Homo sapiens: one gene and its partners. The protein of the gene in region 3 interacts with the protein of the main gene of each other region in a biochemical or structural test. Each region holds a gene or a part of one and is shown on either strand. Other genes may lie near its edges.

Evidence for each region.
Region 1: the proteins of KPNA4 (region 3) and ZMIZ2 interact in a test that uses a peptide from one of them, tested with the Homo sapiens proteins (one study listed by BioGRID).
Region 2: the proteins of KPNA4 (region 3) and ZNF526 interact in a biophysical measurement, tested with the Homo sapiens proteins (one large-scale study listed by IntAct).

What each region holds. Positions count from the first base shown.
Region 1 is NC_000007.14:44,755,245-44,758,972, reverse strand, and holds part of ZMIZ2 (zinc finger MIZ domain-containing protein 2), read right to left. Parts: intron 2,786-3,728; 5' UTR 2,724-2,785; coding exon 2,674-2,723; intron 2,549-2,673; coding exon 2,434-2,548; intron 2,027-2,433; coding exon 1,824-2,026; intron 1,596-1,823; coding exon 1,412-1,595; intron 1,126-1,411; coding exon 865-1,125; intron 1-864. UniProt on the Homo sapiens protein: Increases ligand-dependent transcriptional activity of AR and other nuclear hormone receptors.
Region 2 is NC_000019.10:42,223,257-42,226,179, forward strand, and holds part of ZNF526 (zinc finger protein 526), read left to right. Parts: intron 1-958; 5' UTR 959-1,049; intron 1,050-1,130; 5' UTR 1,131-1,147; coding exon 1,148-2,923. UniProt on the Homo sapiens protein: May be involved in transcriptional regulation.
Region 3 is NC_000003.12:160,527,572-160,531,071, forward strand, and holds part of KPNA4 (importin subunit alpha-3), read right to left. Parts: intron 3,370-3,500; coding exon 3,284-3,369; intron 469-3,283; coding exon 382-468; intron 1-381. UniProt on the Homo sapiens protein: Functions in nuclear protein import as an adapter protein for nuclear receptor KPNB1. Binds specifically and directly to substrates containing either a simple or bipartite NLS motif.

The DNA of each region.
Region 1 (3,728 bases), on a different chromosome or scaffold from region 3:
GTAGCTGGAATTACAGGTGCACACCACCACGCCCGGCTAATTTTTTTTTTTTTTTTTTTGAGATGGAGTCTTATTCTGTCACCCAGGCTGGAGTGCAGTGGCATGATCTCAGCTCACTGCAACCTCTGCCTGCTGGGTTCAAGCAATTCTCCTGCCTCAGCCTCCCAAGTAGCTGGGACTGCAGGCGCCCGCCACCACACCCGGCTAATGCTTTTTGTATTTTTATTAGAGATGGGGTTTCACCATGCTGGCCAGGCTGGTCTTCAACTCCTGACCTCGTGATCCACCCGCCTTGGCCTCCCAAAGTGCTGAGATTACAGGCGTGAGCCACCGCGCCCGGCCTAATTTTTTCTATTATTAGTAGACATGCGGTTTCACCACATTGGCCAGGCTGGTCTTGAACTCCTGATCTCAAGTGATCCACCTGCCTCAGCCTCCCAAAGTGTTGGGATTACAGGCATGAGACAGCATGCCCGGCTTTTGCTTTTTTTTTTTTTTTTTGAAACAGGGTCTCACTCCTGTTGCCCAGCCTGAAGTGCAGGGGAGCGATCACAGCTAACTGCACCCTCAACTTTCTGGGTTCAGGCGATCCTCCCACCTCTGCCTCCCAAGTAGCTATGACTACAGCCACATGCCACCACACCAGGCTAATTTTTGTAGAGACACGGTTTCGCCATGTTGCCCAGGCTGGTCTCAAACTCCTGAGCTCAAGGGATCCACCCTCCTTGGTTTCCCAAAGTGCAGGGACTACAGGCGTGAGCCACCATGCCCAGCCAGAAGCCTGCTCTTTACCACAGCTCTAAAGAGTGCCTGGGTGAGGGAGTTGGTACCCAAGGCCCCAAACTAGGTGACCTGGACACTCACCTCAGAGTAGGTTCTCTTGACCCCCTGTCGGGGCAGTGGCTGGGCCTGGGGAGGCCCAGGATACCCATGTTGGGGCAGACGCTGCCCTGCATACAAGGGTGTCATTCCTGCTGCCCGGGTGGGGTTCATAGCCAAGGGGGAGAGGCCAGAGGGGCCCATTACCCCTCCTATGCCAGTAGGGTTCATGCCAGCGGGGACACTAGGCCCCCGGGGACCTCCATGCTGCAGAAACTGGCTGTTAAAAGACTGTCCGGCCCCCATCTAGGAAGAGAAAAAAGAAGAATGGTCCAGGTCCCACCCACAAAGGGCTCCAAAAGATAGGCATAAAACCCGCCCACCCACCCATGTGGGCACCATACCCTTTCACAGGACACCCCAGAAACCTCTCCCCTCAGACCCTCACTCCTTCCCACACATCTCTCTTTTACTGGCTTCATGAGCCCTGGCATATTCCATGCTTGTCCCTGGAGCCCACTGTCTGGCTGAGTACCTCCTCCCAGGCCCTCAGGCTGGCTGCCATGTGGGAGGAGCTGCTGAGGGGGCTCACCGCTCCATACTGGCTCAGCTCCTGGCTCTGCTTCTCCTGGAGAGCAGCCACGGTGGCTGTGGCTGTGGCGGTGGCAGTGGCTGCCGCAGCAGCCACAGCTGCAGCAGCTGCCGCTTGCGTGAAGTCAGTGGAGGGTCTTGCAGCATGTGAGGGGAGGCCCAGGCCCCCCGGGCCGCCTGCATACCTGCAGGAGACACAGGATTGCCACGCTCTCTGCGTGGGCTCATGAGGGCCAGGACTGTGCTCACCCCAGAGGCATGCAGCACCCAGGGGGAGCCCATTCTTTCTAGACCCTCCACTACAGCTGTCAGGAAGCAGAGAGGGAACGTCCAGCTGATCAGCGCCACAGTTCTGAGGTGCCTGCCAGATTGATGGCTCCTAGCATACCTGCCAGGTGAGGGAACTTGCTTACCCGGTGGTGAAGCCGGGGGCCCCAGGGTAGCCCCCGCGGCTGTACACGCCTTGCTGCACGTAGCCCTTGTTGGCGCCGCCTTCAGCAAACGCCTGCTGTCCCAGGCACTGTGGGGAGGTCAAGGCGGAGCTGCCCCCTGCCACACCAGGCATCATGGAGCTGCCAGAGGGACTCCCTGCAGGGCCCATGGGGTTCCCCAAAACCTATGAGGAAGCAGGAATCACCAAAGGGAACCAGCCAAACAACGTGCTTCATGCAGCAGCTCCAAAGTGCTAGAAACCAACAGGCCTGGCAAGTGGGTTGGGGGAGAGGTGGGGGGGACAGGGTATAGCACGGGAAGCAGGGAAAGCAGCTGTCCACAGGGAGGTTGGGGCATTTTGTGAAGGCTAGGTGAAGACAGGAGAAGAAAATCCCACAGCAGGTGTGGAAAGAGAACCAGTGTCCAAAGACTTAGGGGACTCAGGAGGCCCCATCCTCATATGTCATGCCTCAGCCTCTCTGTCCTCACCTCTCAGCCTCTTCGTCTCTCAGAGCTCTGAGGAGGCACTAAGCACTGCCAAGTGCTGGGAGGCTCTGTCTGCTCGGGGGTGGGGCACCAGTGGGTGCTTACCTGGCTCTGTGTCGCGTTGCCAACTCCCCACACAGTAGTGACCACAGACAGCGATCCAGCCGGCTGAGTGGCGCTTTGTTGCCAAGGCACAGACTCATATGCGAATGAACCATCACTGCAGGGAAAGAGGCTGCTGAGGCCTGGGTCAGGAAGCCACTGGTGTCCAAGAGTCTAGGATCTTCCAGAAATGCCACCCCCAACCCCAGGGCCTGAGGGGTGGGCAGAGGAGCCCACACTCACCCGTGTGGCGCAGGGGGCAGGGCAGGTTTCATGGGGTTCATGGAGTTCATTGGCAATGGAGCAGCCTACAGGCCGGGTCTGACAGTTTTTATCTGGAACTCAGCTGCTCTGGCTGCCCGACAGGAAGGAAGGGATGTTAGCTGCGATGCAGCCAGGAGACCCTTTCAGCAGGGTGGAGGGACCCCGGTGCCAGCAGGCCCCACCTCTTTCTCAATAAGGGACCCCTGGGCTCTGATGGCAGGCAAGGCAGTGGAGGGGCCTAGTACTGACCCACCCCACTCACTCTGGTGAGGATCTGCCCCCACAAATACAGCCTGGAGGCCAGCATGAACCCTTTCTGACCAGGCCCTGCCACCCAGAGTCCCTGGATCAGCCCTAGAGATGGACTTCCCGATTCCAAATACTTTCCCCACTCTCCCGCCCACACCGAGGCCTGGCTATCCTTATAAAGCCAGGGACAATCCTAGCTACCCCGTGGAAACTGGGGTTTAGAGAGGAGCCAGTAGCCAGTAACCCCACAGAAGGCCCTGGGGTGAAGGACAGAGGGCAGTGGAGGTGAGGGGACTCCCTGCTAAAGGTCTTGTCTACCCTGAGTAGCCCAGGTAGGGGCATAGGCGGTTCTGGAGGCCAGGGGCTGAGAAAGCCGAGGAGGAGAGTGCAGGGGTGCGGTGATCACAGGAGTGCAGTGGTCAACCAACAACTCTCCATCCTGGCCTTGGGGAGGGACATGCAGGATACCTCCTGAAATGGGGTGTGGGGCCAGTAACCTGGGCTCTGGCTAGCAGCCCCTCCCAACAAGAAGGCCCTCTTTAGGGTAGTAGAAGGGCTCCAGGCCAGGGCACCTCAGAACTGACCCAGATTCCACCAAGTGGGGGCTGCCCGAGGCTGATATGGTCCTAGGGGCCAGGCAGGCAGACCCACTGGCCCATCCATGACACCCCCAGGAGAGGGCAGGGACACACAGCACAATAGATGGAGGGTGGGCACCCACAGACCTGGCAGGGACTGTGACTTGGCCAGTGTTTCTAAGAAAGGGGCTGGGGAGACATTGAAGT
Region 2 (2,923 bases), on a different chromosome or scaffold from region 3:
CCAGCACTTTGGGAGGCCGAGGCAGGCGGATCACGAGGGCAAGAGATCGAGACCATCTTGGCCAACATGGTGAAACCCCATCTCTACTAAAAATACAAAAATTGGCCGGGCGTGGTGGCTCATGCCTGTAATCCCAGCACTTTGGGACGCCCAGGCGGGCAGATCACGAGGTCAGGAGATTGAGATTGTCCTGGCTAACACGGTGAAACCCTGTCTCTACTAAAAATACAAAAAATTAGCCGGGCGTGGTTGCAGGCGCCTGTAGTCCCAGCTACTCGGGAGGCTGAGCCAGGAGAATGGCCTGAACCTGGGAGGCAGAGCTTGCAGTGAGCAGAGATTGCACCACTGCACTCCAGCCTGGGCGACAGAGCGAGCCTCCATCTCAACAATAACAACAAAAAAATACAAAAATTAGCTGGGCATGGTGGCGCACACTTGTAGTCCCAGCTACTCGGGAGGCTGAGACAGGAGAATCACTTGAACCTAGGAGGTGGAGGTTGTAGTGAGCCGAGATTGCGCCACTGTACTCTAGCCTGGCAACAGAGCAAGAGTCCATCTCAAAAAAAAAAAAAAAAAAAAAAAGAGGCCGGGCTGTTGGCCGGGGTGGTGGCTCACATCTGTAATCCCAGCACTTTGGGAGGCCAAGGCGGGTGGATCACCTGAGGTCAGGAGTTCAAGACCAGCCTGGCCAACATGGTGAAACCTTGTCTCTACTAAAATATATATATATATATATATATATATATACAAAAATTAGCCAGGCATGGTGGCACACCCCTGTAGTCCCGGCCACTCAGGAGGCTGAGGCACGAGAATAGCTTGAACCCAGGAGCGAGAGGTTGCAGTGAGCCAAGATTGTGCCACTGCACTCCAGCTTGGGTGACAGACCAAGTCTCTGTCTCAGAAGAAAAAAAAAAAAAAAAAAGAGGCTGGGCTGAGTGGTGTTTCTCTCCTGCAGGCTGCCGTGGGGTGTGTGTAGGCTTCAGAGACATGGGATCACGGAAGACTGAAGCAGAAACAGTGGATTAAGACTTCCTGAGCGATAGCTGGTGAGTAGTGGGATGTGCAAGAGAATTCCACCTCCCCTTGGTTTCCTGCTGTCTCACTGGCTCCTGCCCCTCTTTCTCCAGGCACTGCCTTCCCCACAATGGCAGAGGTGGTGGCTGAGGTGGCCGAGATGCCAACACAGATGTCACCAGGGGCAGTGGAGATGTCAACACCTATGTCGGCAGAGATGATGGAGATGTCAACAGAAGTGACTGAGATGACACCTGGGGAGGCCCTTGCCTCATCCCTCTTCTTCCAGCATCACCAGTTCATGTGCTCTGAGTGTGGCAGCCTCTATAACACACTGGAGGAAGTCCTCTCACACCAGGAGCAGCACATGCTTGCTGTCTCAGAGGAGGAGGCACTGACCACACAGAATGTTGGCCTGGAGCCGGAGCTGGTGCCGGGTGCTGAGGGGCCCTTCCAGTGTGGTGAATGCAGCCAGCTCATCCTCTCCCCTGGGGAGCTCCTGGCCCACCAGGATGCCCACCTCCGAGAGTCTGCAAACCAGATCCAATACCAGTGCTGGGACTGCCAGGAGCTGTTCCCCTCGCCCGAGCTGTGGGTGGCTCATCGAAAGGCCCAGCACCTTTCTGCTACGGTAGCTGAGCCACCAGTGCCACCTCCTTTGCCTCCCCCAACACCACTGCCTCCACCTTCTCCCCCATCCGAAGTCAAGATGGAGCCCTATGAGTGTCCTGAGTGCTCTACCCTCTGCGCCACCCCTGAGGAGTTCTTGGAGCATCAGGGCACCCACTTTGACTCCCTAGAGAAAGAGGAGCGCAATGGGTTGGAGGAGGAGGAAGAGGACGATGAGGAGGATGAAGAAGATGATGAAGAGATGGAGGATGAGGAGGCCATGGCAGAGGTCGGTGATGATGCTGTGGGAGGTGACGAGTCCACAGCTGGCTGGGCTCAGGGCTGCGGGGACTGTCCCCAGCACCAGCCCTCAGCAGGGGCTCGCCGGCAACACCGGCGGACGGCTCACAGCCCGGCATCTGCCACCCACCCCTTCCACTGCAGCCAGTGTCAGCGCAGTTTCAGCTCCGCCAACCGGCTGCAGGCTCATGGGCGGGCCCATGTTGGTGGCACACATGAGTGTACAACCTGCTCCAAGGTCTTCAAGAAAGCAGCATCGCTTGAGCAGCACTTGCGGCTGCATCGCGGGGAAGCCCGCTACCTCTGTGTAGACTGTGGCCGCGGCTTTGGCACAGAACTCACGTTGGTGGCTCACCGGCGGGCCCACACTGCCAACCCATTGCATCGCTGTCGTTGCGGCAAGACGTTCAGCAACATGACCAAGTTCCTCTACCACCGGCGCACTCACGCCGGCAAAAGCGGGGCACCTCCCACAGGAGCAACAGCTCCCCCAGCTCCAGCGGAGCCCACCCCTCCACCACCACCCCCTGCCCCACCTGCCCAGCTGCCCTGCCCACAGTGCTCCAAGTCCTTTGCCTCAGCTTCCCGGCTGTCCCGGCACCGGCGTGCAGTACACGGGCCCCCTGAACGGCGTCACCGCTGTGGGGTTTGTGGCAAGGGCTTCAAGAAGCTGATCCACGTGCGCAACCACCTGCGGACACACACGGGTGAGAGGCCCTTCCAGTGCCACTCATGTGGCAAGACCTTTGCTTCTTTGGCCAACCTCAGCCGCCACCAGCTGACCCATACGGGTGCACGTCCCTACCAATGCCTGGACTGTGGCAAGCGCTTCACACAGAGCTCCAACCTGCAGCAGCACCGGCGGTTGCACTTGCGGCCAGTCGCCTTTGCCCGCGCCCCCCGCCTCCCCATCACTGGTCTCTACAACAAGAGTCCCTACTACTGCGGGACTTGTGGCCGCTGGTTCCGCGCCATGGCGGGCTTGCGACTGCATCAG
Region 3 (3,500 bases):
AGTTTTGTCTTTTTTCTTGTTACTTTCTTTGATGGAGAAAGCTGAGAAATAAAAAGGGACCCCACTGATCAACATGGGGGTTAGGGGAAGAAAAAATGGATCCTAGCATGAGACAGAAGGTCTAAATTGTATACATCTTGCATAATTATTCAAATAATTAAGAGCTAACTATATACCAAAAAAATGGTATCTTAAGCAACAAAAATTCTATTTACTATGACTTTATGCTTTTACAGTAATACAGTTCAAATTTCTGTAAGCTATTTCACAAAAACTAGTACTGAAGGCAAACTGTTTTCTCTTTTGGATTACTAGTAGCTATTTTTATTACTTAGTATATGATAACAATTTTTAGACTAGTATTACAAGTTTTATACAAACCTATGATATTTCCCAATGCCCACACTGCTTGCTCACAGACATTCTGATGGGGTGAATGGAGAAGCCTCAGGAAAAGTGGCACAGCATCTGATGGAAGAAAAAATAACAATACTTAAGGTTGAAGATACCATAAACCAAAAATCAATCTTTATTTTTTTGCTGAGACCTCAAAAAAAAGGGAACCTATAAAAATATACTTAAAATATAACCTCATTAAATGAATTTTATTGGAATAGCATCATTGGAAGAATTTTGACCAGTGACTATTTACTCAGTATCAAAATGAGTTATCCAGACAAGTGTTAAATTAGGCTTGTGAAATTTCATTAACAATTAAACCTGGAATTAATTTCAAGATTAATTCCTTATAGATTATCTGTAGTTTGAAAAAAAAAAGTACATTATTGAAGTAACTTTTTTTTTGTTTTTTTGAGACGGAGTCTCACTCTGTCATCCAGGCTGGAGGGAAGCGGTGGAATCTTGGCTCACTGCAACCTCTGCCTCCCAAGCTTCAGTGATTCTCCTGCCTCACCCTCCCAAGTAGCTAGGACTGCAGGTGTGAGCCACCATGCCTGGCTAATTTTTGTATTTTTAGTAGCGACAGGGTTTCACCGTATTGGCCAGGCTGGTCTCAAACTCATGACCTCAAGTGATCTGCCTGCCTTGGCCTCCCAAAGTGCTGGGATTACAGGCATGAGCCACTGCACCCGGCCTGAAGTAACTTTTGAACACAAATTTATGTTAACAACATGTGGGTCTTTAAGACAGGCCAGTGATTCCTGGGCCATGTGGGATCTTCCGAATCAGAAAGTGATTCTGTTACTCAACAGGATGGGAAACAGAGATAGGTCTGTATCTGAACAAAATACTGCACTGAACAAATGATTCTTCTTCTTTCCTTCTGATATTACTTTAAAAAGCACTATTTAAGTATATGTAGCTCAATCATGCTTGTAATATCATAAAAGGTAATTCACTTATGGGTTTGTTTTTGAGATAGTGCCTTACTCTGCTGCCCAGACTGGAGTTCAGTGGTGTCACCACAGGTCACTGCAGCCTTGACCTCCCCTGGCTTAAGTGATCCTCCTACCTCAGCCTCCTGGGTTGTTGGGACTATAGGTGCATGCCACCAAGCCCGGCTAATTTTTTTTTCCTGCATTTTGTAGAGATGGGGTTTTACCATGTTGCCCAGGCTGGTCTCTAGCTCCTGGACTCCAGTAATCTGCCTGCCTCAGCCTCCCTAAGTGCTAGAATTACTGGCATGAGCCACCATGCCCAACCTCATTTATTTATTTATTTATTATTTTTGGTATATTAAAGCAGACTAGCAGGGTCAAAAAAATTCTAAGCCTCTTTCTAATCTTTAGAGAGCATACATAACAGAAAGGAAAAAGTGTGAGAGGGAATAAAACATTGTTATGAAACCAAAAATTTTCCTAAGAGTCAGCTATACAAAACCAAAAAACCACAATAAAAACCACCTGAACCCAAAACCAAACCAGTTTTAATAGGATGTGAGGTAATTATCTTTTCTAAGTAATATTACAACATAAGTGTCTACAGTAAAATGATTATTTGGATAACATCTTTGTTCCCCTTCAAAATGTACAAATTAGTGCTTACATTTTTAATAAGCTCAGAGAAGTATGCTGCTTACATATTTAAAGAGGATTTTAAAAGTATCTTCTTTAAAATTATTAATTTCTTTGTTTGGTAGAACAATCAAATACTATTCATGAAGACAATACACTCGGGTTCTTACTTCCAATAATTTTCCACTTACATTTCTTGAAACAAAAAAAAGCAATCCTATTATAATAACAATGAAAAAAAAATTCGAGCCATTCTTTCAACTAGGACTACTTTATAGAAGATTTCTTTAAAATATATGATATGGCCGGGCGTGGTGGCTCACACCTGTAATCCCAGCACTTTGGGAGGCCGAGGCAGGCGGATCATGAGGTCAGGAGATCGAGACCGAGACCATCCTGGCTAACACAGTGAAACCCCGTCTCTACTAAAAATACAAAAAACTAGCCGGGCGTGGTGGTGGGCGCCTGTAGCCCCAGGTACTTGGGAGACGGAAGCAGGAGAATGGCATGAACCCGGGAGGTGGAGCTTGCAGTGAGCCGAGATCGCATCACTGCACTCCAGCCTGGGCGACAGAGTGAGACTCCATCTCAAAAAAAAAAAAAAAAAAAAAAAAAGAGAAAAATCTCATTAAGAGAGGCTGAGGCCCGGTGTGGTGGCTCATGCCTATAATCCCAGCACACTGGGAGGCCAAAGCAGGTTGATCACTTGAGCCCAGAGTTAGAGACCAGCCTGGGCAACATGGTGAAACCCTGTCTCTACAAAAAACACAAAAATATTACAAAAATTAGCTAGGCACAGTGGCACATGCCTGTAGTCCCAGCTACTTGGTGGACTGATGCGGAAGGGTCTCTTGAGCCTGGGAGGCCGAGGCTACAGTGAGCTGAGATTGTGCCATTGTATTCCAGCCTGGCCAAAAGAGTAAGATCTTGTCTGAGAAAGAAAAACAACAACAACAAAAAAACAAAAACAAAAAAAGAGAGGCTGAGAGGCAATGTGGCAACAGGAAAAACTCCTTTATTTCTACTGATGTCCTATAAATAAAGTGTAACAATAATAATGTAATCTGCTACTATAATTAGGAAATGTTCTCATATTTAGAAAGGAATCAAGTGAATTTTTGGAAATACAAAAAACATCAGTCACCAGAATAAGAAGATTAAAGTAACATACTTAAGTTGACCTATTTCAATAACTACGTAGTAGCTATTATTTTATAATTTAAATTGCCATAGTCTTTTGGGAAGATCACTATTTTTTACCGACTTCTTTTAAAAAAAATCACAATTATGTTTATTAATAACCAACTTACTGGACTGAACTACTGCTTGAGTTTGTTCAGAAGTTCCAGATGCAATGTTTGTCAAAGCCCATGCAGCTTCAAACTGTAAAGAAGGACTACAAAAAAAAACAAGTATTTTTAAACAGCAGGGATTTTTACATTGGGCCAAATATCTAACCATTCTTCCTTCTACCATTTAAAATGCATTAAATATTTTGTTTCAAAAGTTATCTATCCATCCAGCATA